2 separate regions of the Homo sapiens genome follow, and region 1 is linked to region 2. The links come from fine-mapping of genetic effects on gene expression. A gene starts in region 2. The other region holds a variant in brackets. All regions are shown on one strand. Distances are from middle to middle.

What was found. PIP is the estimated chance that this variant, and not a neighbour inherited with it, causes the effect. A credible set is the group of variants that fine-mapping cannot tell apart.
Region 1: its variant is the best candidate, but not a certain one, in a credible set for the expression of FCER1A in whole blood (INTERVAL, PIP 0.64).

What each region holds. Positions count from the first base shown.
Region 1 is chr1:159,249,217-159,265,051 of GRCh38, forward strand. No RefSeq gene overlaps it. Among named protein-coding and RNA genes, the nearest start is that of FCER1A, 45 kb to the right of the region's middle. The variant T/C (reference allele first, on the strand shown) is at 9,918.
Region 2 is chr1:159,290,427-159,305,633 of GRCh38, forward strand. It overlaps FCER1A (Fc epsilon receptor Ia), which reads left to right and starts at 11,910. Exons shown (of 5, transcript NM_001387280.1): 1 at 11,910-11,993; 2 at 12,428-12,448; 3 at 13,502-13,756. The coding sequence starts at 11,939.

The sequences.
Region 1 (15,835 bases), 41 kb before region 2:
TGAGAAACTCCTAGGTGCTGCAATCTTAGGGGCACCCACATACTTTTGTGAGTTTTATCTCCAGACACCACACAGTGTTCTTATGGTGAAGAGCGGTCAGAAAAAATTCATGGCTCAGGTAGAAGGAGGGAAAGAATAACTTGTAGAATACAACCTGACTGTTCTTCATAGCAAAGACTTACTCTCCAGGGGTAAAGATTTATCAGAGCCTTATCCCACCTAGGGGAAAATAATTTCTCTCACTCTAGCCCTCTCTAGCATTCCTATTTCACCTGAGTGAGGAGAGAGGACAAGACACCCTTGTGAAGGTCACATTCCAGGAACACAGGCCCACTAAAAGAGTGAGACTTAATAATAAGATTACAGAATGCTCCTCACTCCCACACCTTACTGTCAGATCAAAAGGACTCTGGTATAAGGGTGGGTCACAGTTAAAAGAGCTGCAAGATTTAAACTCTCTCTGAAGAGGAGTACTTAGGGAATCTCAAAGTTAACAGAGTAGAATAAACAAGGATACTAGAGGAATTTAGTCTCTGGCCTCTATCGATATAGCAAACATTAAATATAGCCCAAATCTTAGCCAGATTAACATAAAACTTCACATTAAATTCATGTTTACTTCAGTTTCTATTGCCCAATATATCATGTGCAGCTTTCAACAAATATTGCAAAATGTGCCAGAAGACAAGGAAAAATGCAGTTTGAAGAGACAAAGCAAGAATCAGAAAGAAAGTCAGATATAACATAGATTTTGGAATTATCAGATAACATAATTATCTGATAATTACCTAACATAATTAATATGTTAAGAGTTATAATGACAAAAGTAGACAACTTGCCAAACAGATGGGTAATATAAAAGCAGAGATTAAAACTCTAAGAACAATAATAGGCGATCCTAGAAATCAAAAACATTGTAACAGAGATTAAAAAAATGTCTTTGATGGTCTCATCAGTAGACTGGACATGAGTAAGAAAAGAATCAGTGAACCTAAAGATAGACCAACTTCTCATACTGAAGTACAAAGAGAAAAAAAATGAAGAAAACAAAAAACAAAACAGAACATTCAAGAACTGTGGAACGATTTCAAAAGGTATAACATATGTGTAATTGGGATATTTGAAGGAGAAGAAAGAGACAGAAATATTTGAAGTAATAATAGAGAGAATTTTTCAAAGTTAACGACAAACCTCAAACTACAGATTCAGTAAGCTCAGATAACTACAAGCTGAAGAAATACCAAAAAATATACGAGAGGTGTGCATATCATTCAGATTGCAGAAAACCAAAGACAAAGAAAAAAATCTTAGAAAAAGCCAGGAGGAAAAATCGTATCATCTGACCTATAAAAGAACATGATAAGAATTATAGCAGACTTCTTGTCAGAAACCATGCAAGCAAGAAAAGAGTGAAGACAAATATTTAAAACTTGGAAAGAAAAAAAGCCACCCAACTAGAATAATGCATTCATCAAAAATACACTTCAAAGATGAAAGATCTTTTTCAACAAAATCACAAAGAATTTATTGCCAAGAAATTGGCCCCAAAATAATTTTAAAAGCAGTTCTCTAGGCATAAGGGCAAATTATGTTTCAGGAACCGGGATCTACCTAAAAAGAGGAAGAACAGGAGGGTGGCCAAGATGGCTGACTAGAAGCAGTTAGTGTGCACGGCTTGCCCAGAGAGGAACAGAAGGGGAGAGTAAACACAACGCCTTCAACTGAAACACACAGGTACTTGCACTGGGAGTAATCAAGGAAACAACTTAACCCACGAAGAATGAAGAAAAGCAAGACAGGACAACGACCCACCAGGGAGCAGCACAGAGCCAGGGAAACTTCCCCACTCAGGGAAGTGGTGAATGTGCGACCCCAGGAAACCATGCTTCTCTCACGGATCTTTGCAACCTTCCTTGTGAGCCCATCCCAGCAGGGCCTTCAATCTGACAGACAGAGCTATATGGAGTTTAGGCAGAGCAGCCGCTGAGGCATGTGTGGAGACCCTGGTGCCTTAAATAGTCCGGCTTTCCGGCAAAAGTAGCTGCAGCTCCAGCAAAGTGAAAGATTAGACCCCCATACATACCCCTAGGAAAGAGGCTGAATCCAGAGGCTGAGCAGTGACAGCCTGCAGGCCCCACTTCCACAGCACCTCCCAAGATAAGACCCACTGGCTTGGAATTCCAGCCAGCCACTGGTAGCCGCATTGCACCTCTCTAAGAAGGAGCTGAGTTGTAGGGGAGGCTGCCATCTTCGCTGTTCCAGGGCCTTAGCCATTCTATCCTTCAGACTTTGAAGAGTCCAAGCCGACTGGGGGCAGAAGGGATCCCCAAGCACAGCACAACACAGCTGCTCTAACAAAACGTGGCCAGACTGCTGCTTTAAGTGCGTCTCCAATCCCATGCCTCTTCACTGGACAGGATCTCCCAACTGGGGTCTCCAGCCACTCCCACTCATGTTCGCCCCTCAACAGAGATTTTATTTTTTTATTTAATTTATTAATTTATTTATTTTTGAGACGGAGTCTTGCTCTATCGCCCAGGCTGGAGAGCAATGGCGTGATCTCGGCTCACTGCAACCTCCCCCTCCCGGGTTCAAGCCATTTACCTGCCTCAGCCTCCCAGGTAGCTGGGACTACAGGTATGTACCACCATGCCTGGCCAATTTTTTTTTGTATTTTTAGCGGAGATGGGGTTTCACCATGCTTGCCAGACTGGTCTCGAACTCCCGACTTCAAGTGATCTGCCTGCCTCGGACTCCCACAGTGCTGGGATTACAGACGTGAGCCACCGCACTCTGCCTCAACAGATATTTTATTCCCCCTGGGGTGGCGCTCCCAGAGGGAGGGACAGGCTGCCATCTTTGCTGTTTGGGCAACTTAGCCAATTCAGCCTTCAGGCTTTGGAGGTCTGAGCTGACCGGGGCAGAAGGGATCCTCCAGCATAGCGCAGCTGCTCTACCGAAACATGGCCAGACTGCTTTTTTAAGTGGGTCCCTAATCCCATTCCTCCTCACTGGGCAGGACCTCCCAACCAGGGCCTCCAGCCACCCCCACTGGTGTTGTCTGGCAGACAGAGATTTGTAATCTCCCTGGGACAGAGCTCCCAGAGGGACGGGTAGGCCACCATCTTTGCTGTTTGGACAACTTAGCCATTCCAGACTTCAGACTTTGGAGTTTTTAAGGTGACCAGGGGTTGAAGCAGATCCCCAGCACTGCACAGCTGCTCTACCAAAACATGGCCAGACAGTATTTTTAAGTGGGCCCCCAATCCAGTTCCTCCTCAGTGGGCAGGACCTCCCAACTGGGGTCTCCAGCCACCTCCTACAGGTGCCTTTGGGCCTGCAACCTCCCTGGGACAAAGCTCCCAGAGGGAGGGACAGGCTGCCATCTTTGCTGTTTTGTAGCCTTCACTGGTGATACTTCCAGGTAGTGGAAAATCCAAGTTGACTAGGGACTGGAATGGGCCCCAAGCATACCATGGCACCCCTGCAGAAAAGTGGCCAGACTGTTATGTGGATGCCCATTCCCATATGTCCTCACCAGGCAGGTCCACCACGCCCAGGCCTCCAGCCACCCCCCGCCAGAGCTATCGAGCCAATAACAACTTGGCAATGCTCTGGACAGAACCTCCAGGAGCAACTGAAAGCCTCTGCTACTACGTCTGCAATGGAACTGCCCTTGCCATCCTTAGACAAAGGAGCAAAGACCCTAAGTGCCTTATCCATATCTCCAACAAGCTGTGGTCAACCCAAGGAGAGAAGGCCAGTCCATCTCCCATAGGTTCCCCACACCCCTGACTGGTTGTTGTAAGTCAGGGAACCCCTGGCACACATTTCCCTCTATAACCCTCCACCTTGGGCTGATTGCACTGAGCTGTTGCTGACCTGCATCTCTCTGGGGTGGAGCCCCCAGGAGACAAGCAAATGACACTTTACAGATAGCAATGAAGAGCATTGAGATTCAGGAGATGGCAAAACCCAGTCTAAGGAAAATAAGAATCACAATAAAGCAATACAGGAGCTGAAGGATGAATAGCTGGTGTTAAAAAGAACATAACAGGTCTGACAGAGCTCCATAACACAATACAATGATTTCACAATGCAAACACACGTATTAACAGCAGAATAAACCAAGTAGAGGAAAGAACATCACTACTTGAAGACTAGTTCTCTGAAATAGACAGACAGTTCTTAAAAGTACAGTTCTTATAAGTAAGAACATGTAGCAGTTGGCTTTCTGTTAAGAAACCAAAATTTGGTTAAGAATCAAATACTGCATGTTCTTACTTATAAGTGATAGCTAAATGATGAGGACACATGAACACATAGAGGGGAACAAGGCACACTGGGGCCTACTGGAAGGCAGAGTGTGGGAGAAGGGAAAGGATGAGGAAAATCAGGAAAAATAAATAATGGGTACTAGGCTTAATACCTGGATGATGAAATAATCTGTCCAACAAAGCCCCATGACATACATTTAACTGTGTAACAAACCTGCACATCCTGCATATGTACCACTGAACTTAAAATAAAAGTTAAAAAAAAAAGAATAAAAAATAATGAACAAAAGCTCTGAGAAGTATGGGAGTATGTAAAGAGGACCATACTATGAATCATTGGCATCCCTGAAAGGGACGGGGAGAAAGCGAACAACTTGGAAAACATATTTCAGGATATCATTCATGAAGACTTCCCCAACCTTGCTAGAGAGGCCAACAGTCAAATTCAGGAAATACAGAGGACTTCTCCAAGATTCTACACAAGAAGATCATCCCCAAGACACGTAATGATCAGAAATAAAAGAATGTTAAAGGCAGCTAGAGAGAAAGGGCAGGTCACCTACAAAGGGAGCCCCATCAGGCTAACAGCAGACCTCTCACCTGAAACAAGCCAGAAGAGATTGGGAACTTTATATTCAATATTCTTATAGAAAAAAATATCTTTAACCAAGAATTTCATATTAAGCTTCCTAAGTGAAGGAGAAATAAGATGTTTTTCAGGTAAGCAAAATTGAGGGAATTCATTCTCACCAGATCTGCTTTACAAGAGATCTTGAAAGGAGCACAAAATATAGAAAGAAAAAACCACTACCAGCTAATACAAAATACACTTAAACACACAGTCTGGTGTTAACATAAAGCAACCACACAAACAAGCCAAAATAATAATCAGCTAACAGCACAATGACAGGATCAAATCCACACATATTAATACTAACCTTGAATGTAAACAGGCTAAATGTTCCACTTAAAAGGCAGAGTGAGGCTGGGTGTGGTAGCTCATGCCTGTAATTCCAGCATTTGGGAGGTTGAGGAAGGTGGATCACTTGAGGCCAGAAATTCAAGACCAGCCTTGCCAACATGGTGAAACCCCATCTCTACTAAAAGTAGAAAAAAATTAGCTGAGTGTGGAGGTGCATGCCTGAAATCCCAGCTACTAGGGAGATTGAGGCATGAGAATCACTTGAACCCAGGAGGCAGAGGTTGCAGTAAGCTGAGATCATGCCACTGCACTGCAGCCTGGGTGACAGAGTGAGACTCTGTCAAAAGAAAGAAAGAAAAGAAAAAGGCATAGAGTGACAAGCTGAATAAAAAAGCAAGACCTAATGCCAATGGTATGCTGTCTTCAGGAGATCCATCTCACACATAATGATACTTATAGGCTCAAAATAAAGGGATGGAGGAAAACTTACCAAGCAAAATGGAAAACAGGAAAAAAAAGCAGAGATTGCAATAATAATTTCAGACAAAACAAATTTTAAACCAAAAAACATAAAAGACGACAAAGAAGGGCATTACAAAATGGTTCAACTCAACAGGAGGACCTATCCTAAATATATGTGCACCCAACACAGGAGCACCCAGATTCATAAAGCAAGTTTTTAGAGACCTACAAGGAGACATAGATATCTCCTAATAATAGTGGAAGACCTCAACACTCCACTGACAGTATTAGACAGATCACTGAGGCAGAAAATTAACAAAGATATTCAAGACCTAAACTCATTAGTGGACCAGATGAATCTGATTGACCTTTACAGAACTCTCCACCCAAAACAAGAAATATATATTCTTCTCATCACCACATAACACATGCTCTAAAATCAGAGCAGAACTGAAGGAAATAGAGACACCAAAAACCCTTCAAAAAATTAAGTAAGCCACATTTTGTTTTGGTTTCTCAGTGCATATAAAAGTTATGTTTACATTATACTGTATTCTATTAGGTGTGCATTATGTCTAGGAAATGTGTATAGCTTAATTAAAATATGCATTATTACTAAAAATGCTAGCAATAATCTAAGCCTTCAGTGGATTGTTATCTTTTTGTTAGTGGAGTGCCTTGCTTCAGTGTTGATGGCTGCTGACTGATCAGAGTGGTGGTCCCTGAAGGCTGAGCTGGCTCTGGCAATTTCTTAAAATAAGACAACAATAAAGTTTGTCTCATTGATTGACTACCTTTCATGAAAGATTTCTCTGTAGCATATGATGCTGTTTGATAGCATTTTACCCACAGTAGAATTTCTTTCTAAATCGGAGTCCATCCTCTCAAATCCTGCCACTGCTTTATAACCCAAGTTTATGTACTATTCTAAATCATGTGTTGTCATTTCAACAATGTTCACAGCATCTTCACCAGGAGTAGTTTTCATCTCAAGAAACTACTTTCTTTGATCATGCATAAAAAGCAACTCTTCTTTCATTAAACTTTAGTCATGACACTGCAGCAATTCAGTCACATTTTTAGGCTTCACTTGTAATTCTTGCTGTCTTGCTTTGTCTACCACATCTTCAGTGACTTCCTCCACTGAAGTCTTGAACCTTTCAAAGTCATCTATGATGATTGCAATAAACTTCTTTCAAAATGCTATTAATGCTGGTATTTTGAGATCCTCCTCCTAATCACAAATGTTTTTAATGGCACTTAGAATGGTGAGTCCTTTCCAGAAAATTTTCGATTTACTTTGCCCAGATCTATCAGAGGAATCAGTAGCTATGGCAGCTATAACCTTACAAAATGTTTTTCTTAAATAATAGGACTTGAAAGTAAAAAAGTATTCCTTGATTCATTGGCTGCAGAATGAATATTGTGTTAGCAGGCATGAAAACAACATTAATCTCTTTGAAATGACTCCATCAGAGCTCTTGGGTAAACAGATTCATTGTCAAGGAGCAGTAATATTTTGAAAGGCATCTTATTTTTTTTTCCTGAGCAGTAGGTCTCAACAGTGGGCTTAAAATATTTAGTGAACCATGGTGTAAACAGATGCACTATTGGTCAGGCTTTGTTCCATTTATAGAGCACTGGCAGAGTAGATTTGGCATAATTCCCAAAAGGCTCTAGAATTTTCAGAATGGTAAATGAGCATTGGCTTCAGCTTAAAATCACCAGTTGCATTAGCTTCTAACAAGAGAGCTTGCCTGTTCTTGAAAGCATTGAAGTCGAGCATTAACATCTCATCTCTAGCTATGAAAGTCCTGTATTAAATTTTCTTCCCATGTAAGGTTGTTTGTCTACATTGAACATCTGTTGGTTAGTGTAGCCACCTTCAATTATTCAATTAGGTATTTTCTGGATCACTTGCTGCAGCTTCTACATCAGTACTTGCTGCTTTGTCTTGCACTTTTGTGTTATAGACACACATTGAAAAACAAACAAAAATAAAACCAGAGAGCTCCGCTGGCTTCAGACTTTCTACTGTAGCTTTCTCATCTCTCTTGGCCTTCACAGAATTAAAGTTAGGGTCTTGTCCGGGATTAGGTTTTGGCTTAAGGGAATGCTATGGCTGGTTTGATGTTCTATGTTGACCACTAAAAGTTTCTTCATATCAGCAATAAAGCTGCTTTGCTTTATTTTCATTTGTGTGTGCACTGGAGTAGCACTTTCAATTTCCTTCAAGAACTTTTTCTTTGCATTCACAACATTGCTAACTGTTTGTCACAAGAGACCTAGCTTTTGACCTGTCTTAGCTGTTGACATGCTTTCCTCACTAAGCTTAATTATTTCCAGCTTTTAAGTTAAAGTTAAAGAAGTGCTATTCTTGCTTTAACTTGAACTCTTAGAGGCCATTGTGGGGTTAATTGGCTAATTTCAATATTGTTGTGTCTCAGGAAATAAGTAGGCTGGGGGAGAAGGAGAGAGATGGGGGAAATACACACAACATTCATTGATTAAGTTTGCTGTCTTACCTGGATACAGTTCATGGTGCCCCAAAACAATTACAATAGTAACATCAAAAATCATTGATCACAGACCACCATAACAGATGTAACAATAATGAAAACATCTGAAATACTATGAGAATTACCAAAACATGAAACAGAGACATGAAGTGAGCACACACTGTTGGGAAAATGGTGCCAAAAACTTGCTTTATGAATTGCCACAAACCTTCAATTTGTAAAAAGCACAATATCTGCAAAGTGAATCACAATAAAATAAGGAATGCCTGTAATAAACAGAACCCTTTTCTAAAGGTAATAAACCCAAGATAACAATTTGATAAGCATACTATCTATATTTTATACTAGCACTTAACAACTAATTCTTGTCAATATAAAAAATGTAAAGGAACTCCCAGTAAAATAAAACAGTTACCTGATACAATGGAAGCCAATTCATCTTAACTGCAAAGCTGAATGAGAAAATGTGTGTTTAATCAGTAATTTCTATGAATTTTGATCTTACTGATAAGAAGCCTTTCATGACTCGGTTGCTACTCTACACCAACCTCATTTTGGATGATCTCTGATCCTTACTAAATACTTTCCCCTCCCATCCCTGAAGTTAATAAACTCATTTGAAACAAAAACTTTTAGTAGGAGTTTTGGATATTTGAGAGACATAGTTATCTTCAAAGTCTGGTATGCTTCTCTGTCAATGGAAGTTGGTGGCAACAGGTTTCTCTGCTTAGGACTTAATTGAGATGAAGAATCAGGAAGACCCTGAAGAATTAGCATTCTGTCTGGATAGGGGAAAAATCATATTCAAGGTAATCAAAGAATTTTTGGGGGGAAGAAAAAAAGGCAATACTTCGGAATGCCAAAAAAAGAGTGTATTATATATAGTCAGTAAGCCATGGCTATGATCAAAAACACTTACTGATGGCAGAAATAATAGACCACCTACTGAAAGCAAAATAAAACAAAAATGGATGTCCTGTAAGAAAGATAAATGGAAGGGCTCAGTCCTAAAAGGCTGGCCAGCATTTGAGAGATAGTGGTTTGAACATTTTGCGTGTAAAGAATTTAAAACATAAACTTCTCAGAGTCACTTTGTATTAATGGAAGAGCTGTCACTTGAACCAAAGTCTCCCAGCTTTTAGCATGGTACTCCTTCTACTGATAATTCTGCTTTTCCATGCTGTGGCTACTCTACATCTTTCCAAAGAGGAAGACCATTTCCTCTCCCCAATGCTCATTGATATCCCCTCTAGTACCCCAGGGAAGGTAATCTCAACATTTACTAAACTATATGCTGGTTGTTAAATGTATGCTTATTCTTTCACATACATAGTCATCACAGATGTCAGTTGAAATCAACCTGTCCTTTGACATACACATATAATTCCTTAAAATTGGTTCAAATCTACTAATCTATGTCTGATGGGAAGTAAAAAATCCTCTTATAATTTTCAAAAATTCACTAGAAGTTTTATTTATTTTTATTTTTATTTTTTAAATTATTATTATACTTTAAGTTTTAGGATACATGTGCACAATGTGCAGTTTAGTTACATACGTATACATGTGCCATGCTGGTGTGCTGCACCCATTAACTCATCATTTAGCATTAGGTATATCACCTAATGCTATCCCTCCCCCCTCCCCCCACCCCACAACAGTCCCCAGAGTGTGATGTTCCCCTTCCTGTGTCCATGTGTTCTCATTGTTCAATTCCCATCTATGAGTGAGAACATG[T/C]GGTGTTTGGTTTTTTGTCCTTACGATAGTTTACTGAGAATGATGATTTCCAATTTCATCCATGTGCCTACAAAGGACATGAACTCATCATTTTTCATGGCTGCATAGTATTCCATGGTGTATATGTGCCACATTTTCTTAATCCAGTCTATCATTGTTGGACATTTGGGTTGGTTCCAAGTCTTTGCTATTGTGAATAGTGCCACAATAAACATACGTGTGCATGTGTCTTTTGTGTGCTTCCTTCTAGTTCTGATTTCTTGATTTCACTTCACCTCCCTTCACCTTACTTCCTGCGGCTATTGTCTTTTTTTAATCCCACTCCAACACAGAAGAGGAACTCAGCCTATTTTCCTCATTTGCCACAAAGCAGCAGTCCAGCAGATACTTGTTTTTTTTTTGTTGTTGTTTTGTTTTGTTTTGTTTTTGAGATGGAGTCTCTGTCTCCCAGGCTGGAGTGCAGTGGCACGATCTTAGCTCACTGCAAGCTCCACCTCCCGGGTTCACGCCATTCTCCTGCCTCAGCCTCCCGAGTAGCTGGGACTACAGGCACCACCATGCCCGGCTAATTTTTTGTATTTTTAGTAGAGACAGGGTTTCACCGTGTTAGCCAGGATGGTCTCGATCTTCTGACCTCGTGATCCGCCCGCCTCGGCCTCCCAAAGTGCTGGGATTACAGGCATGAGCCACTGCGCCCGGCCAGATACTTGTTTTTAATAGCAGAATTTGTAGGAGGAAAGGATAAAGAAAGGTTACATTACAGCACCACACTGCAAACTGTTTCTATATTAATATCCGATAATTCTTAAAATTCTTTAACCATCACCACTCATTACAATCTCTCATTGTACCACATTTCTCCATAGGTTGTCATCTATGTCATGTTACTCAACCTCTTCCTGCAGCTCTTCCTCTCTTATTTTCTCTACTTCCAGAGGACCACCAAAATCCAGGTTAATTTTTATGCAGAGAAACTTAAAATATCTTTGCATATTTATTACTCTATAAACAAGGACCTGGGGTGTGCAGGAGGGAGAGGAAGGGGGAGCTCAACATTACAACACTGTGGCCTAAATAGGCATTTTGTTATGGAAAAGACAATTTGCTCCAAAGAGGAGGGACAAGTGGTTGAAGAAAGAAATTTATTTAAATGGCATTGTTTTTGTGATTTTTTTAAAAATATATCACATCATAAAATTCTGAGACAAGATCCTAAGATAAAATCCTAAAACCAGGATTTTTTTCTCATCAAGTAAAATAGGTAGACCAGAATTTGACTTCAGTTCTCTGTACAGGTACCTACAAAGGGTGGATTCAGATTTTGAATACATGAATATTTAGTTAGAATGAGAAAAGATGATTTTGTATAAGCGGTCTGTGCCAATGAGAGAGAAGTTTTATTAGCTTCTCATTACATCCACCTCTGAGCCTAACCAGAACCTTAAGTCTATAAGTTCATGTAAGGCTCAGCAGATGCGTACATTTAACTACAATAAAAATAAGTCATCTTCTCAACTGATCTAACCCAGGGCACCCAGGTGCCCTATTGTACTTACAGAAAGCTATTCTGTATACAACTTTGACACTGATTAATTTTTAAAAAGTAAATTAAAAATTGGCTCAGTTGGAATAGAACTTAACATTAGTACAACCCCCCTCCCCGTGCTGGCCTTGCTTTTAAAGGCCTTGTTTAGTGAACAATCTTCTTAATTAACTGATTTTCAACAAAGGTCCCAAAACAATGGAGAAAAGACAGTGCTTTCAATAAATGGGACAGGAAATACCGGAGATACATGAAAAGTAATGAAGTTCGACATCATATACAGAATTAGAATAGATGGAAGACCCAAGTGTAAGAGCTAAAACTATACAATTCTTAGAAAAAGATGAAGTAAATCTTCATAACATTGGATTAGGCAATGATTTCATAGACATGCGCTAAAAGTACAGGCAACAGAAAAGAAAACAGATAAATTGGAATTCATCAAGATTAAATACTTTTGTGCATCAAAGGACACTAACAAGAGAGTGGAAAGACAACCTACAGAAAGGGGGGAAATATTTGCATATCATACATCTCAATATCTGATAAGAGATTAATATCCAGAATATGTAAAGAACTCCTACAACTTTTTTAAAAAGCAAAAAAAATTCCAGCAGTTAATATGTGAGCAAATAACTCAAATATGTATTTCTTTAATGAAAATATACAAATAGCCAATACAAGCACATGACATGATGTGCAGCATCACCAGCCATCAGGCAAATACAAATCAAAACCACAATAAGATACCACTTCTTTGGCATTAGGATCATTATTATATTAATAGCAACAGAAACAATAGAAAATAGTAAGTGTTGGGGAGGAAGTGGAGAAATTAGAACCCTTGTGTGTAACTGATGGGAATGTAAAATGATACAGCAACTGTGAAAAACAGTCTGGTGGTTCTTCAAACAGTTAAAAATAGAATTACCATATAATTCAGCAATGCTACTCCTGGGTATATACCCAACAGAATTGAGAACAGAGAATCAAACAGACACTTGTACACCAATGTTCATAGCATACTCACAGAAGCCAAAAGGTAAAAACAACCCAAATGTCCATCAAAAGATGAACGAATAAATAAAATCTGCTACATACACAATGGAATATTATTCTACCTTAAAAAGAAATGAAATTCTGGTACATGCTGCAACATGGATGAACTCTAAAAACATTATGCTATGTGAAGTAAGCCAGACACAAAAAGACAAATATTTTATGATTCATTTAAATGAAATGTTCAGAGTAGGCAAATCCATAGAGACAGAAAGCAGGTTAGTGCTTGCCCAGGACTGGCAGTCAAGAAGAAATGGAGAGTTATTATTTAGTAGGTACACATTTTCTGTTTGAGATTATGAAAATGTTATGGAAATAGTGATGGTTATACAACACTATGAAGGTACTTAACATCACTGATGTACACTTAGAAATTGTTAAAATGATACATTTTATATTATGTATATTTTATCACAATAAAAATTAAGTATCTGGGAAGGTTTTTTTTATTTTTCCTGCCACTTTTCTGTAAATCCAAAATTATGTCAAAAGAAAAGGTCATAAGAATAAAAGAAAGCCTAATAGTTTAGGATGATGTCATCACAATAGGTGGTGCATATCTCCTTTGACAAGAGCACATAATTCTACAGGGCTAATCCCAAATCTCTCCATTAAAGGACTATCTCTACCAAACTTGCCCCCAAATGAATGCTGCTTCCACTTCAGGGTGATCTTTGTTTTCTGTTCAATTGAGTATCCCTTTCTCTCCTGGGGCTTCTCTTCTACCTAGGAGTTCTACAGTTCCTCCAGCGGGTGCACATGGATTGAAACAAGAGTCTTAGGATGGCTTAACAATGCCCTCTCCATAGCCAATAGACAGACTGTAGGCTTCAGTTTTACATGGATATAGAAAGACCTTATTGTCTTGGTCCAAGTGCTGTAGAACAAGGGGTTTTAACCATAGGTCAGGTTGATATGTAAGATTTCTCTAGAACCAGGAGAAATACTATAAAATTCATATTAATCATATGTTAACATCTGACTATCTCCGCATAGGGCTTATTACATATAGGGCTTGCAAATATGGGTTATTTACATATGATATTGCAATGAAAGATCTTATATGGTGAATTCTTTTTCCTAACTTACTTTTTTGGTTCTGTCAACTCTATTCCAGGGACATAAGAAAGGTTAGTTTATTGAGTGCAATGAGCAAAGGTTGTGAAACCCTATCTTCTTTTTTTCCTTTCATACCTAGTCCCTGGGCATTTTACCCTTATACTCAAAAAATTCTTCCTGTGGAGTTGGATGTGGCTAATGATAAATGCATTGATTATTTCTGTTGGTCTATGATTTGGTTTTCCTGAGTCTCTATCATTCCTCTTCGGGTAAGAAATAGAAAACTTGAATTAATAGGTGTAAATATTACTTTTTTGTGTCATATCCTCCCCAATCCCTGGTTATCTGTTCATAAGAAAGGGGTCAAATCCCTGTTTGTTCAATGTACTTGAAGCTGTCATCTCAGATGCTGAGGCTCAATCTCATGGACTTACCCCCTTTTAAGGCAGAGGTGGGTGTGTAATCATTTTGCGCTCATCCACTTAATTTTATTTAGTAGGAATAGAAGGAATACAACTTTCTTCCAGCCAATTGTGACTGGAAGTACACATTCATCTATAATTTGCTAAACCAACATGTTCCCTTTCAAATGAAGCATATTTAGTGAGTTTTTTCTCCTTTCCCTAAAATGAGATAATCATAGCAAGAGTTGTTTTTGAGAGAACAGAAAGTTATATTCATTATCCTGCTTTACAAACAAGAAAATTAACACAGGGAGATGAAATGACTGACTCAAGGTCACATAGTGAGTCAGTGGCAGGGCTGGAAATAAAATGCAAGTAATATAGAATAGGCATGCTATTATCCTTTCTGCTTTGAAAAATTTTTCCTCCCCTCACCTCCCTCATTTTTTATTGTACAGATTTAGGGTATACAAAAAGATATTTTGATATACATATACATGGTGAAATGATTACTACATGTACACAACTAAAGATACCCATCACCTTCCATAGTTACCTCTTTCCCGCATGCACGCGCGCATGCATGCATGTGTGTGTATGTGTGTGTAACAGCACCTAAAATCTACTCTCTTAGCAAATTTTAAATATAAAATTTAATATTATTAACTATAATCCTCCTGCTATACATTAAATCCCTAGACTTATTTATCTTACATAACTGAACGTTTGTACTCTTTGACTTACATCTCCTCATTTTCTCCCCCTCCTTTTCCCTAGTAACTAACCACTGCTCTATTCTCTGTTTCTCTGTATTTGACTTAAAAATATTCCATATGTGAGATTGCACAGTATTTTTCTTTCTGCATCTGGCTAATTTCACTTAGCATAATGTCCTCTAGCTTGATTCATGTTGTCACAAATGGCAGTATCTTTTTTTAAGGCTGAGTAATATTCTATTTTGTGTGTGTATGTGTGTGTGTGTATCACAATATCTTTATTTATCCATCGACTATTTTCGTATCTTGGTTATTGTGAATTATGTTGTAATAAACATGAAAGTGCAGGTATCTCTTTGAGGTATTGATTTCATTTCCCCTAATACCCAGAAAGGGACTGCTGCATTATATGGTATTTCAATTTTTATTTTTTTGAGGAACCGCCATACTTTTTTGCATAATGTATGTCCAAATTATAGTTCCACAAATAGTGTACAAGGGTCTTCCTTTCTCCAAATCCTCACCTCCATATCTTTCATTTTTTGGTAGTAGCCATCATAACAGATATGAAGTAACATCTCATTGTGGTTTTGATTCCCATTTCCTCAATGATTAATAATATCAAGCACCTCTTCATATACTTGCAGGCCATTTTTATGTCTTCTTTGGAGAAGTATCTATTCAGATTCTTTGCCCATTTTAAAATTGGATTTTTTTTTTGGCTAGTGAGTAGTGTGAGTTCCTTATATGTTTTGAATATTAGCCCTTATCAGATATATGGTTCACAAATATTTTCCCCCAATCCATAGGCTGCTTTTTGATTTTTTTGATTGTTTCCTTTGCTGTGCAGAAGCTTTTTTAATTTGTTGTAGTCTCACCTGTTTATTTTTGCTTTTGTTGCCTGTGCTTTTAGTGTGATATTCAAAAATATCATTGCCAAAGTCAGTATCAAGGACCTTTCCCCCTATGTTTTCTTCTAGGAGTCTTTTTTTTTTTTTTAATACTTTAACTTTTAGAGTACATGTGCACAACGTGCAGGTTAGTTACATATGTATACATGTGCCATGTTGGTGTGCTGCACCCAGTAACTTGTCATTTAACATTAGGTATATCTCCTAATGCTATCCCTCCCCCCTC
Region 2 (15,207 bases):
CAGATTCTCCATCAGTATCTTGCCTCATAAATTTTAAGTCAAAAGATGACCACAAACTCTCAACTTATTGGAGGGAATAATTAAGTTATCCCAAATGTTGTGGCCAAAGTGCTGGAGCACCTTGTTGAATGCCTTTCTTCCTCATGTTTAAGATCCCTACCATTCAGACCTCTAAGCTTCAAATCCTGGCTTTGCCATTCACTAGTTGTATAATCTAAACCTCCCTACCTCATTAAAAACAAGGATGCTGATAGTACCTGTTTCATAGGATTCCTGTGAGTATTAAATAGGATAAAGCACAATGCCTGAATACAGTCAGTGTTCAAAAAATATTAACAGTTACCTGTGCTTATATTTTTATTAGAACACATCCTAGTTTCTCCATTATTCTTCCTGCTTATGGAAATCAAGTTTTTAATAAAGTCATTGTGGTTTGGATGAACTCCCTTCTGCATTTTTGTATTCTACGCAGTATTCCACATATTGCTATGCACATGGCAACTGCTTAACAAATCAAGAAATACATTGCAGTTTCTCTGATATAATGCATTTTTCTGTAATGCAAATTAGTCTATATGCTATAGGCAAGCCAAGGAATAATGTCAATATAACATTGAAGTTGGTTGAAACAAGATTTTTTTCTAGCAAGTTAATATTTTGAACTACCAAGGAACAGCTAACACAAATCTTACTAGCACAGTAGAACATGGCAAGGAATAGAATATTCTGCACAGTAACTATTCACTTCAAGGTTTTCTCTTGGCTTAGTTTTACCACAAGTGTATCTTGAGCATGTTTGTTCTCTGGTTTTCCCCTGCTTTTGTGTATTTTCTCTTTGTCATCTTCTTCCACCAACCTTTGAAAGTGATCAAGTCCTAGATTTACTGTTAATTTTATTTATTACAAATTTAACATATCTTTTTAACTGCATAGTTCATTTGGTAGAAATACTAATGTTTATGTTACTGCTCTGATGGTAGGTTTTCATGATCTGTAACAGTCTTTTTTTCCTCTCAAAGACTTGTTAGTTTTAGTTATTTTTGCAGAATGCAAAACAATTTAAAAAAATAAATGTATGTTACATGTTATGGCAGAAACACCTGTGTTATGTTCAAGAAAGATTTAAATTGAATGAGTGAAAGCCACTTCTCTCTTCTTGATTATGCAAGGGCTTAACTTCTTCAATTATTTAACTTATACTTCCCTTATTCCCTCTCTGCTTACTGAATTATTCCTGTTAGCTAACAAATACAATCCAGCATCTTATATAAAACAAGAATCCTCCCTTAACCCCACATCTTCCTATACCACCATCCCACAGCAAAACTTCTCAGAATATTGTCCGCACATGTTGCCTATGCTTCCTCAATTCCTATTCACTTTTTTAGCCCACTTCAGTTTGCTTTTTACACATATTACTCCACTGCCATTGCTAAAGTCCCAAAAACTTCCATATTGCTAGATTCAGAGGATAATTGTATTCTCTATTTTACTTCACCTCTCAACAAGATTCAATGTAATTAACGATTTCCTCTAGAATTGTACTCTCTTCTTGGTTTTAGTGACATAATTCCCTGTGAGTTTTCTTACCTTATCAGCTGTTTTCTCTAGCCTCTGTTCTGGGTCTTCTGATACTCATCTTCAAGATATTGAAATTTCCTAGAGTTCTGCTCTGAGACTTTCTCTGTTGCTTAATTTCTTTTTCTCTCTCTTCAGCTGACCTCATCTTACTCAGTGGCTTTAAAGTATGCCAGTGATTCTCTACTTTCTCTACTTTATATCTCTAATATAGACATTTCTACTGGTCTCTCAACATTTTTTTTGTAACTGCCTATTTAGCACAGACTCTTAGATACAATAAAGATGCTTCAAACTAAAACACTTCCCAACCGGAACACTTGGTTGATTTCTCCCCCAATTCTAGTACTTCCCTTAAATATAGTACTTCCCCAGTCTTCACCATGTAATTACTGTCTACCCAGTTATTACAGCCAGAAATTTAAGAATCATATTTTATACTTTCTGTGCCCTCCAATCTGTCAGTAAGTCCCATTAATATATATACCTCAAACCCATCAACTTTTCTTTATCTATACTACCACTTCTCTAGACTATCTATCATCATATTTTGACTCTTAAGCATTTCCCAATATCTGCTCAAAAAACCTACAGATTACATGACGACATACCTATCTATATATAGATAGATCGGTAGACGTTGAGAGAATGTGGGTGTATACACATATACTATACATATACATGTCTATGGTTTGAGTGTTTATCCCCTCCAAACTTCGTGATGAAACTTAATTTCCAGTATGGCAGTATTGAGAAGCAGGACCTGTAAGAGGTAATTGGTTCATACAGATTCTGCCCTCATGAATGGATTAACCTAATTATGAATTAATAGATTAATTGAATAATGGGTTATCATGGGAGTGAGACTGGTGGCTCTAAAAGAAGTGGAAGAGAGACTAGAGCTTACAGGCTCAAGCCCCCCTTGCCATGTGAATCTCGGTGCCACCTCGGGAATCTGCAGAGAGTCCCCATTAAGAAAGAATGTCCTCACCAGATAGACCCCTTGACCTTGAACTTCACAGTCTCCAGAACTTTAAGAAATAAATTTATTTTCTTTATAAATTTCAGTCTCAGGTATTCAGTTATAACCACAGAAAATAGACTAAGACATACATGAAGAGCCATCAAACTGTATTAAGCAGGGGAATATATATACATACACACTGTGTGTGTGTGTGTGTGTGTGTGTGTGTGTGTATGTGCATTCTTTTGCTTCACACAGTCCGGTGGCTCTTTCTTAGCTTTCAAATAAAATCCCAACACTTTTTCATGTTCTTCCAGGCCCTCATGATCTGGCCCCTATGTGTATCTCCAATCTCGTTTTATGCCATTGGCCTTCTACTCGCTATGCTTCAGCCCTAATGTCCTTCTCTTAATTTCTTTTTTTTAAATTTTATTATTATTATACTTTAAGTTTTAGGGTACATATGCCCAATGTGCAGGTTAGTTACATATGTATACATGTGACATGCTGGTGTGCCGCACCCATTAACTCGTCATTTAGCATTAGGTATATCTCCTAAAGCTATCCCTCCCCCCTCCCCCCACCCCACAACAGTCCCCAGAGTGTGATGTTCCCCTTCCTGTGTCCATGTGTTCTCATTGTTCAATTCCCATCTATGAGTGAGAATATGCGGTGTTTGGTTTTTTGTTCTTGTGATAGTTTACTGAGAATGATGATTTCCAATTTCATCCATGTCCCTACAAAGGACATGAACTCATCACTTTTTATGGCTGCATAGTATTCCATGGTGTATATGTGCCACATTTTCTTAATCCAGTCTATCACTGTTGGACATTTGCAACCTACTCATCTGACAAAGGGCTAATATCCAGAATCTACAATGAACTCAAACAAATTTACAAGAAAAAAAACAAACAACCCCATCAAAAAGTGGGCGAAGGACATGAACAGACACTTCTCAAAAGAAGACATTTATGCAGCCAAAAAACACATGAAAAAATGCTCACCATCACTGGCCATCAGAGAAATGCAAATCAAAACCACAATGAGATACCATCTCACACCAGTTAGAATGGCAACCATTAAAAAGTCAGGAAACAACAGGTGCTGGAGAGGATGTGGAGAAATAGGAACACTTTTACACTGTTGGTAGGATGGTAAACTAGTTCAACCCTTGTGGAAGTCAGTGTGGCCATTCCTCAGGGATCTAGAACTAGAAATACCATTTGACCCAGCCATCCCATTACTGGGTATATACGCAAAGGACTATAAATCATGCTGCTATAAAGACACATGCACACGTATGTTTATTGCGGCACTATTCACAATAGCAAAGACTTGGAACCTTCTCTTAATTTCTACAATTCTCCAAAGTCTTTCTTTTTATGGGGACTTTCAACTTCCCACTGCTTGAAAATTCTTGTTCCAGCCTTTGTCTTGTTTCATCCTATCTCGTACTTTAAGTCTCTACTTAAAAGTCATTTTTCATCAAATGGCCTTTCTTAACCCTATTTAAAACAGATTGTCCTTGTACGTCTATGGAGCAACATTATTTACTTTTTACAAACGTTAGTCACAAGCTGTCACTGTTCTGTTTACTTATTTATTTTCTGTTTTCTCCAATAGAAAGTCTTCTCCCCAAGGGAAAAGATCTTGTCTGCTTATTATCTCTCTTGTATCACCAGCAAATGACAGAGTGCTTGGAATATAAATACTTGTTGAACAAAGAAATGAAAATATATGATGAAGAATGTTCCTATGCTGAAACTAAATTTTTGTGTTAGTTTTAGTGACAGAAAGATCAAGTAACAGGTCTGTATCCATATTTAAGCCATTTCTTTATTTGTCCATAATAATTCAAGCTCAGAGATTGCCTGTTTGGAAAAGTATATTATAAAAAACACTATTAATAAACTTCAAGACATAGTTTGCTCATTCTGAAAAATTAGAAAATATAATTAGCCAAAATTCTACCAGCAAACTATGATCAAATGCTAACTTTAATGAGATAGCCCTTGATAATTCTGAAGTTATCTTTTTTCTCTTAAAGATAAATTGGCATCATGAGATTATTGAAATATATGGTTGATTAGTATAAATTCAATTTAGGAATTGAGAATACAAAAAATTATTTATTTTACATTCTCTGCTATAGACTTCTAATTAACTCTTGCCCCTTGGGTCATGCAGAGAAGATTTTCTTCATATATCTTTCTGCAACGTGACTGTGCTATTACCTATGATAAAGAGGGTTGTTCTGTGTTTGGCAGCCTATTCTAGGGTGGGCCTTGTGTCAGTTCCTTTTTTTGTCCACCTGTCTCTGAACAACATAAAACCCTCATTCATAGGTGCAGCATGACTTAATTTGTCGGTCACTAGATGCAGTTGTAAATTGCAAACAAAAAAATGGAAATGCAGATGTTGAAATAAAGATGCAATTTTTGGTTATGAAATGGTCATCTGAATGATCCATATTTATATTCATTTATTTATTATCAATGAAAAACGTACAAATTTTCTAATTAAAAAACTTACAAATTCCTAATTATAATAAACACTATTCTACGGGAATGGCCACCAAAATGTCCCAAATTTTATGTCACTGAATCTATTTCTAATATTCGGTCTAATAGTCTAATCACAGACACTCAATATTCATTTGTTTTCTTGAACCTCTATGATAATCTGCAAGTGTTTCCCGTTTTGGAAGAGACAAAGGAAAAAGCTGTGATGAATATCACTGGAAACTGCGGATCAGGGCCCCTATTCCATGTTTCTCTGGCCCTTTTTTCTTCTTCAGAATTTAGCAGTGGTTTTCAATCCTATCAGATCACATTTGATAGCATGCATTTATTCCTGTGTTTGTAAGGCATAAACCTGTAACCACACTACAAATAGTGAGAATATTGCTGTGAAACTGCATACTCTATGCACTCCCAACAATCAATAATAGAAAATAAGTGGTGCTCAATGATGCTAGAGAAAAGAATAAATTATATTTCTAGTTTGTCTATAAAAATGATATTACAATATCTCTGTCTGAGGAAGAGGAGATCAAATAACATGTAATAACAATATTTTGAAAAGGAAGAGGATAGTGGAATATCTGTTTACTTTCTGATGAATTTTATAATGTTTATGTCATTTGTCAGCTGGTATATTTTTAACCTTTTGTGATTAACTTTCTTGTCCTAAATAGTAATTTTAATATCTAATATTGTATTCAAAAATTTCTACTGGATTTTTTAAGGAAGCCCCCTTAAACTGTTTAAGTTTCAGGGCCTCAAACTGGATCTACCTCTGCTACTTACACACACATATATTTTTTAATCAGTAAAATTCCCAGTTTTAATATAAAGAAGAAATAAAGGGAAATAACATTATAATAGGAAAATATGTCCTTCATGAATATGAGTGCTACAAAAACAGACTGATATGAGAATAAGGTATTGGTGACACAAATATCATGAACAGTGTAGCTACAGGTGATCTGATTTTCTGAAACAGTGAAAAATTCAAGGATGTTTTTCCAGTAAAAGCCAAGGATAATCTTTCCTCAATATACATGGTAGTTTCTTTTCTGTAAAATACAGTATGTATGAGAAATGCAAAAGATGCTTTTGTGTTTTTCACAGTCGTGTTTAAGGCTCAGATAATTATAAAATATCTGGCTGCACATTGAAAAGATGTGCAGAATCAGGCCAATTATTTAGTATGCAAGGCTGCCTTCAGTATTGCAGGGCATTTGTTTGCCTGCTAATGCTACAAATGTCTCCTGTATACTCATCATTGAAACAAGCAACCCTCAATACACATACATACATTCTCATGCATAAACTTACATTTCCTAAAGGCCTTTTGTAGGTGGTAACACAGAGTATGATGAGAAAGTTTCAGAATGCGTCCTGCCCCTCCCACTGTTCCCATCCTCACTCATACCCTCTTTCACGCACTAGAAACACACGGGTCACAGAACTGTTTAGCCAGAGTCCTGAAAAATTAGGTCTTCAAAAGTTGCCTATTAAAATGCAAATGTCCTGGTCTGGGCTAAGATCTCTCATCCTTGTCTGTTAACGGCCTAAAAGGATTCCTTTAAGAGATTTCTCTTTCCGTTTTGAAACTGTGTAATTCTGTAAGGAAGCATAAAATAAACCTGGCCTACACTACATTCGGCTTGAGGGCTGACTCTGCACAATGGGGATTTCTCTGTCTCGTACCACACCTGAAAATGATCTTCAAACTTCCTAACGCCACTTCTGCAGACATGCGTGTGTTGGAGGTGTGGGTGTGGTTATGTGTGTGATGATGTCTGTCTCATTGACATGATTACTGCTGTGTGATCCTGGCTGCATCCTGTGAGAACAAGGTTTTGCCTTCTGGACCCACCAGTGGCCTTCCAGGTTCTTCATCCTCAGGACAGACCAGGAGGATGGGAAAGGAGGCTCTCTCTCTGCTGCTCTCAAGTCTAACCAAAGGCTTCTTGCAAAATAATTATAGTATTCATGAAAACTAGTATATGTTCTGTTCTAACCACCTCACCACATTAACTCATTTTATGCTGATAACCACCCTTAAGGTAGGTACTATTACTATCTCCATTTTACTGGTGAGAAGGCTGAGGCAAAAAGAGTTTGAGTGGTCACAGCCGAGACTCAAACTTTAGAGCTTGTTCCTAGCCTGAACTCTTAATTAATCTTGCACTTAATTTCTTTAAATTATCTATGGCTAAACTTTTATTTTTATTCTTTTAATTTTTAAAAATTTAGTGTGATATTCTGGTATTTTTTTTAGCTGGGTATGGTGGCACATCCCCATAATCCCAGCTTCTTGGGAGGATGAGGTGGGAGGGATCACTTGAGCCTGGCAGTCCGAGACTAGCTTGGGCAGCATAGTAAAACCCAGTCTCAAAAAAAATTTTTTTTAAAGAAGGAAAACTTTTTTATACTACAACTTTCCTTAAGGATCTTCCTCAGTGGGCTTATAATATTGTTCTCCCCATTATGAAGAAAATGTCAGCTCACTTAACATCTGTATCTGTTGGAAGACATGAAGGTAAGTTTGAAGCCCTTTGGGCTTCTTGGCTGAAATATACTATTTATAAGGTAGAGGTCATGATCAATTTGTTTGAGTCCACCTTATGGTTCAGATTGTACCCTTAACTACAAGACACCACAAAGATGCTTCATCGGCAAAGTGTGAGTGGCTGATTACATATCTTGAAGACAGGCAGCTTGATATCTAGATGCCCACACCTATGCACTATAAAAGAGTGTAGATTATGCTCAGTGATACGCCTTGGATGTTTTCTCCCCTCCAAATCTCATGTTGAAATGTGGTCCCCAATGTTGGAGGTGGGGCCTAGTTGGAAGTGTTTGGGTCATGGAGGCAGATCTCTTATAAATGGCTTGGTGCCTTCCCCATGGTAATGAGTTCACATGAGAGCTGGTTGTTTAAAGGAAACTAGAACCTCCCTTTTCACTCTCTTCTTTAGTAGTCCTGGGAGTTTCCATTTATTTCCTTTGGATTTATTACTTTTAGACCCATTCAGGTCAAGACAAGAAGTAAAAAATATTAAAGTCACTGACTTTCTTGTGAAAATCTAACAGGCAGTCAGCATCTGCTATTGATGCTCTTTCTTGAGCAGAAACTCCTGTTCAGGGTAGCAAAAGAAAGTAAATGCAGCTGATATCCTCCTGGCCCTAATATAGAGGAAAAAGGAAAGAATCCCTCTCTCCTTTCTTCTTTTTAGGCATGTCCATGAAATATACATAGCTAACATACCAACAGTACCAACATTGTGTGGCTGTGAGTTGAGATGTCATGGCCTGAATTAAGAAAGGGAACTTATAGAACAGAAAGTTGGTTTAGATCAGTGATTTCCTATTTGTGGGTTATGGAACCCTTGAATCCAAGGAATTTCTGCATGAGGACTATGAATCCATGTGCACTTAATCACAAAGTGTAGACTCAATGAATAAAGACATCTTTATCTATCTATCTGTCAATCAATCATCTATCTATCTGGTCATGAGCATGTGCTCTTAAGACATATTGCCAGGTTCAAATTCTAATTCCTTTACATAGCAACTGTGTGCCCTGGGACAAGTTACTTAACCTCTCATGCTTTGATTTCCTTATTCTTAACTACATAGAGTTGGTAGTAGGAGGAAAATAGATAGGACATGTTGCATAGTTAGCCTTGTATTTGATCCTCAGGGAGAGATCAACATTTGTTAGGTACATAAATATCACGAGCAGACAGGCATTTTGCACTTTCATCGTTTCATATTCAATTTTATATGGACCTCACCTTGTTTTAGAGAACTTTGAGAGTGAGAAGGAAGCCAGCAGATTGATTTGGTTTTTCTGCTTCCCAGTTTTGGAGAAGGACATAAAGGCTAACACACTGTATAGGCTGAGCCTTGATCCTCCCTCTGCCAGGCACGTCCCGAAACACAAAAGTTCCTGCCCAAAGCCTCTCACGCTGGATCCAGTTGCAGGGGCACCTCACAGTCCTCAGGCCCTGTAGCTCATGTACAGCCATTTGTTTCATTTTTCCACTGCTACAAAATGAAATATAGATTAAGGCTCCCAACATCAAATAACAGGTCCAAGTTTGGGCATAGTGATACTCTTTGTGTATTGAGCATTCCTGTACCCAGAATCAGAAGCAAGAACTGAAATTTAGACACGCCCTATTGATTTCAGTGAACGTGTGTTCCTGATGTGGACAGGCTGGGTATGAGAAATTAGTAGCAGCCCACTCCACCCAGATAATGGATATGAAACTTGAAGGACTTTTTTTTTTATATATAAGATAAAAAACCTGTGGCATTCAACTGTGTATCAGCCCGTTCTTCCAGGGAGGAATAGAGCTCTTGTTTAATGTTAGTGTTAATGTGTTCCTTCTGTGTTCTTGTTCTGTTCTTTTGGGTACCTGTAGTTATATGCTATGGAAATTAGGGTATGGCTTTTTCTTTCCGATGCTGTTAATGGTTTGCTTTTTTGGGGTGGGGGTGGGCTGGGAAGATGGGTAGTTTGGTTGCTTTTTAGGCTTTAATGAGCTGCTTTTATTGGACTGCTACATTTTTGCTGTTACTGCTACCAAAGCACTTCCTTTATTTCAATACCGGGCACTTAAGCAAAAGCTTTAGAATGATAAATCCAAAGTTTCAGAAAGCTTTAGAAATGAAAGTGGCCTCCCTAACTCCAAAGCTTATACTCTTCGAACTAGGAATAGTACCTCTCGATGAGCCCTGCTCCATCTCCCATCTAAGTAGGAGCTATTTAGATAACGACTTCAGAGGAAGCCTTTAAATAGACTATTTGAGTCATGGTAAAATGACTCTCTCTGAGGGACAATTTGATTGTAGGTTCACTGTCCTAGGAAAAAGGAACCCAAATTTCCCCTGGCAAAGTCTCAACAAACTGGTAAAGTAGAATCTTTCCCCGTCTCTTCCAGGGCTTAGGGCTTCAAATATTGCCCTCTGACAGCACCTTAAAAACTACATCTTCCCTATTTCCTCCTCCTTCTCTTCTCCAATCCTATCCAACAACTTTCTGCATTCTGTTCTTTCCTGATTATGCTCTCTTCTTTGTGACTGTGGAGAGGATTGAGATTGCGTAGATATATTAAACTAGCATAAGATGTTGTTTATCAAATTAAACATACTATGTAGGTTGACAATAACTTTAATCCAGTCAAAATTCATATTTCTCCTATAAGTCTTTAATAAATAATGATAATAAAGAAGACAAAAAATGTATTTATTGACCATATTTCACATGTCAGATGCTGTGCAATGCATTTTACTTCTTTTTTATCTTATTAAATCTCATAATATAACCATGACCTGGATACCATTATTGTCCCTATTATACAGGTAACCTTCAATCACATAAAAATTAGGAACATTTGAATTCAGAGCTTAAAACACAAACAACTTGTACTTTTCAAAATAACTTGCTGTTACCTTTAAGGTCTGTCATTAAAACATAGCATGTCCTGGGCTCAGTACCTAATCTTTCTTATCTGAAACTTAAATTCCTATTTATTAACCTTTTTAGCCCTATATTTTCTAATTCCATAGAAAACTAAAGGTTTTGGTTAGATCTTCATGTGGAATGACTGGTTTCATTCAATAGACTTAATTCAGCAGTCTGTGGGGAAGAGCAAGGTATGATAGAATGGTTCCTCAAGTGCTTCAGATGTGAAGTGGGTTTAAATATACTGTCCCTGTCTTCTTCAGAGTTTTGGTAAAGATAAAATAGGACACTCATTTAAAAGCAATCTTTGCAAATGACAAGCCACTATAGACATTAATAGAGTTTTCATTTCCAGTATTATCATTAATATCAGATCCTGGAAGAAGGTTGAGCCTTGACCTAGAGCAAAAAAACAGAAGAATTAGTAAAGGAATCCTGGAGAAAGCCCCTGCTGTGTATTTAAAGGAGAAAGGGAGATCATGTTGGGAAATTATAATATTAAAAGTAAACAAAAGCTAGGAAGTAAAATAAAATAAATTATATGGCCTAGATCCCCATAAGTAATGGTTTAACTTCTGCCTTCCTGTGTTCTGAGCCAGATTAGGGCACAGTAGAGAAAGAGGAGTCTCTGAAAATGTTTCCAATTTCGCTGGTCAGACAGCGGATCATCAGTGAATCAGATGAAAATTTGTGGATTTATGCACTAACTGATCAGCAGGAAATTAAACAAGAAAAGCGTTGGTAGCTCTGGTGAATCCCAAAAGAATTTGGCAGTTGCTAGCCATGCTCCTGAATATGTATAAACAGTACATCATATGACTAAGAGTTTGACTTAGGGGTTAGATTTTATGTGTTTGAACCCCAAATTAGTTATTTAATAGTTGGCACCCCAAAACAAGTTACTTAACCTCACTAAGATTCAGTTTTCCTGTTTATAAAATGTAGATAGTGATAGTATGTACTTTATAGGATTATTGTGAAAAATAAATGAAATATCAGATTTATTTAGGATAACACCTGGCATATGTTTGGTATTCAGTAATTAGTTGCTGCTGTTTTATTCTGCTCTCCCTTGCATCCCACTTTTCTAAGTTGTAAACTAAATAGTTGTACACAGATTGACAGATTAAGAAAGGCTTGTGATTGTGCTAGACCTATGCCTCTCTCTCACCAGATTCCAGGTGTATATGTGGAGGTGGGATAGGGAGTGGAGTAAGTGGGTAAATATTAAATTGCCCAGTTGGGCACCATCCTGAATATTATCTCTAAAGAAAGAAGCAAAACCAGGCACAGCTGATGGGTTAACCAGATATGATACAGAAAACATTTCCTTCTGCTTTTTGGTTTTAAGCCTATATTTGAAGCCTTAGATCTCTCCAGCACAGTAAGCACCAGGAGTCCATGAAGAAGATGGCTCCTGCCATGGAATCCCCTACTCTACTGTGTGTAGCCTTACTGTTCTTCGGTAAGTAGAGATTCAATTACCCCTCCCAGGGAGGCCCAAATGAATTTGGGGAGCAGCTGGGGTAGGAACCTTTACTGTGGGTGGTGACTTTTTCTAGGACATGTGCAAACTATTGGGCATTTCCCAGGGACTCTGTAGTGGAGCCAAGCTAGAAAGCAGAGGCAAGTGGGCTGAGCAACACCTAAGGAGGAAGCCAGACTGAAAGCTTGGTTCCTTGCATTTGCTCTGGCATCTTCCAGAGTGCAAATTTCCTACCAAGGAAATGAGGGTAGAGGAGAGAAAGAAGCTCTTTCTTCCCCTGATTCTGATTCCTGAAAAGACGGTTGGTCCTTAAAATTCCATGGATGTAGATCTTATCCCCACACCCAGATTCTAGTCCTCTGGAGATAAAGAAGACTGCTGGACACTAATGTATCCTCTCTGGACTTTTGCAGCTCCAGATGGCGTGTTAGCAGGTGAGTCCTCTGTTCTTGTTCCCTTGGTGTTTCAACATGTCTGGGCATTGCTTTCCTCTCACTATTTTCTTCGTCCCATCACTTCTGCTTTCTAATGAGCATGAATCTGTTCCTTGGCCAGACTACTTTCCCTCTCCACCTTGCCTTGTCTTTCTTTTTTTCCCTGATTCATTGCATTCTCTCAAGTCATTCTCTCCTCTGTTTTAGTCAATAACCATGTCTGTTGCACATATACATGTCTCATTCTCTCTCCTAGACACTTTGGCATGATCTCGCTCAATAATTACATTATTATTATTATTGCCATTTTATAATTGAGGATGCTGAAACTCAGTGATTTTCTGGTGGTTACATGGCTAAGGAACTGGATTTCAACGTAAGTTCCTTGGATCTAAGTCCAGTTCTCTTCTGACTATATCACCCTTTTGTTATCACCATGTATCTACTTCTTTGGTCTCTGTTCAAATTTGCACTACATCCCCTTGTTCCAGGAAGCCATTCAAGACTGACTTTCTTAGTGCCTCTCACTACTTTCTGGAACTGACATATGTTTTTCACTCTGTATATACTTACAATTAAATAGTCATAAATATTCAGAGCTTGGAGAAACCTTATATTTCATCCAGTCCAGTAAATTTATCCATCCATAATTCACTCATTCATTCACATAATAAATATTTAATGTAACAATGGTTGAACATGGCAGACAGTGTTTCTACCTCAAAAGAGATTGCAGTCCTCATTTACAGATACTGAATTGAAATTAACAGAAGTAGAGTGAGTCAGCTCAAATCACATAGTGAATTGGTTTCTTTGTTTTTAAATCTCCTGCATATGTGTCCTGTCTTTCTCCCTGTGTTGGGCGTTCCCTGGGGCACCAATACTAATTTCTCCTTCCCCTAGAAATCAAAACAGGGTCTTATCACCAACAGAATAAGGACAGGTTGACCACTGATTGTCAGAATATTGCTTCGTTTGTACTTTTAAGCCTAGACAGTTTTCAATGACTTTTTTTCTCTCTACATGTCTTTTCATATTTTTATCTTCTTGAAGTCCCTCAGAAACCTAAGGTCTCCTTGAACCCTCCATGGAATAGAATATTTAAAGGAGAGAATGTGACTCTTACATGTAATGGGAACAATTTCTTTGAAGTCAGTTCCACCAAATGGTTCCACAATGGCAGCCTTTCAGAAGAGACAAATTCAAGTTTGAATATTGTGAATGCCAAATTTGAAGACAGTGGAGAATACAAATGTCAGCACCAACAAGTTAATGAGAGTGAACCTGTGTACCTGGAAGTCTTCAGTGGTAAGTTCCAGGGATATGGAAATACAGATCTCTCATGTGAGGGATGGCTCATCTGAAGATGGGAAAAAACAGGTTATTCCAAGGGTTAGGACACCAGAGTGGGATTCAAGGCCTCTCATTTTTAAGACCCCTGCATTGGCTGGGCACAGTGGCTCACGCCTGTAATCCCAGCACTTTGGGAGGCTGAGGCAGGTGGATCACGAGGTCAGGAGATCGAGACCATCCGGCTAACATGGTGAAACCCCATCTCTGCTAAAAAATATATATATATAAAATTAGCCGGGCGTAGTGGTGGGCACCTGTAGTCCCAGGTACTCGGGAGGCTGAGGCAGGAGAATGGTGTGAACCCAGGAGGTGGAGGTTGCAGTGAGCTGAGATCACGCCACTGCCCTCCAGCCTGGGCTACAGAGCAAGACTCCGTCTCAAAAAATAAATAAATAAATAAAAAAGACCCCTGCATCTCTTTTCTTCTACCCCCTTCCCTTTTGATTACTTGTATGCCTTCTTTCAATATTCTAGTCATCTCTCAATATTATTCCTCCACCCTATTTTCCTCTATCTTTTCTGCCTAGATTCAGGTATATATTATGTGGTCAAACAGCATGACATATATGTGAACATTTCAAAGAGCTGTGTATCTGGAATAGGATCAAAAGGTTTGACTTAAAGTTTTGCTCTGCATAATCCATATGGCAGGACCTGAATATTAGGTTGTACTCTTCGTTATGAAACATATCTGGGTACATTTCCTTATGTCCTCTGTTGTTACTTAAGAACACATATTTCATGCTTGTTTCATTTTTATCACTCCTACTGCCAACAAATAGCATAGCATGCTTAGGCACATGTGGCTTAATTAGCAAATGTTGAATAAACAAATTAATGATTTTGAATAGTGACCAATAGGTCTCTTTTATACTCTATATTTTTCTCTTGAGTGAAAAAAAATGTTTCAACCTCCATATGTAAATTCCAAACACAAACTAAAGCAATGTAGAATAGCTTCTTTATTCCCTGGAGTAGGTTCTAGAGAAGTCCTAAAGGATTGGTCCTAAATTAATTATGCTTATTATGCTAGCGATATTTCCTTTCAAAATTCTCCTTTAATGAATGCTTTTTAATTTTTACAAAAGCATTAACCATAGAATGTGATTCTTGTCTTTCACTGACTCATTAGTGACAAATATTTGTTGAGTACCTACCAACTCCTAAGTATTGCTACCAACTCCTAAATACTGTGTTGGGCATTCAGAATAGAATGTAGAACTAGACAGGGTCCCTGACTTCTTGGAGCACAGAGCAGTATGGGAAGAGGACATTAAATAAAGAATTACATAAGTAATTAATTTAAATTATACATGTTTTGAAGAAGTTTTTTTTTGACAACTATAATTAACACTAGAACTGGGAAGTTTCTATAAGGTAAGAGAGGACAAAATAGACACTCTCCT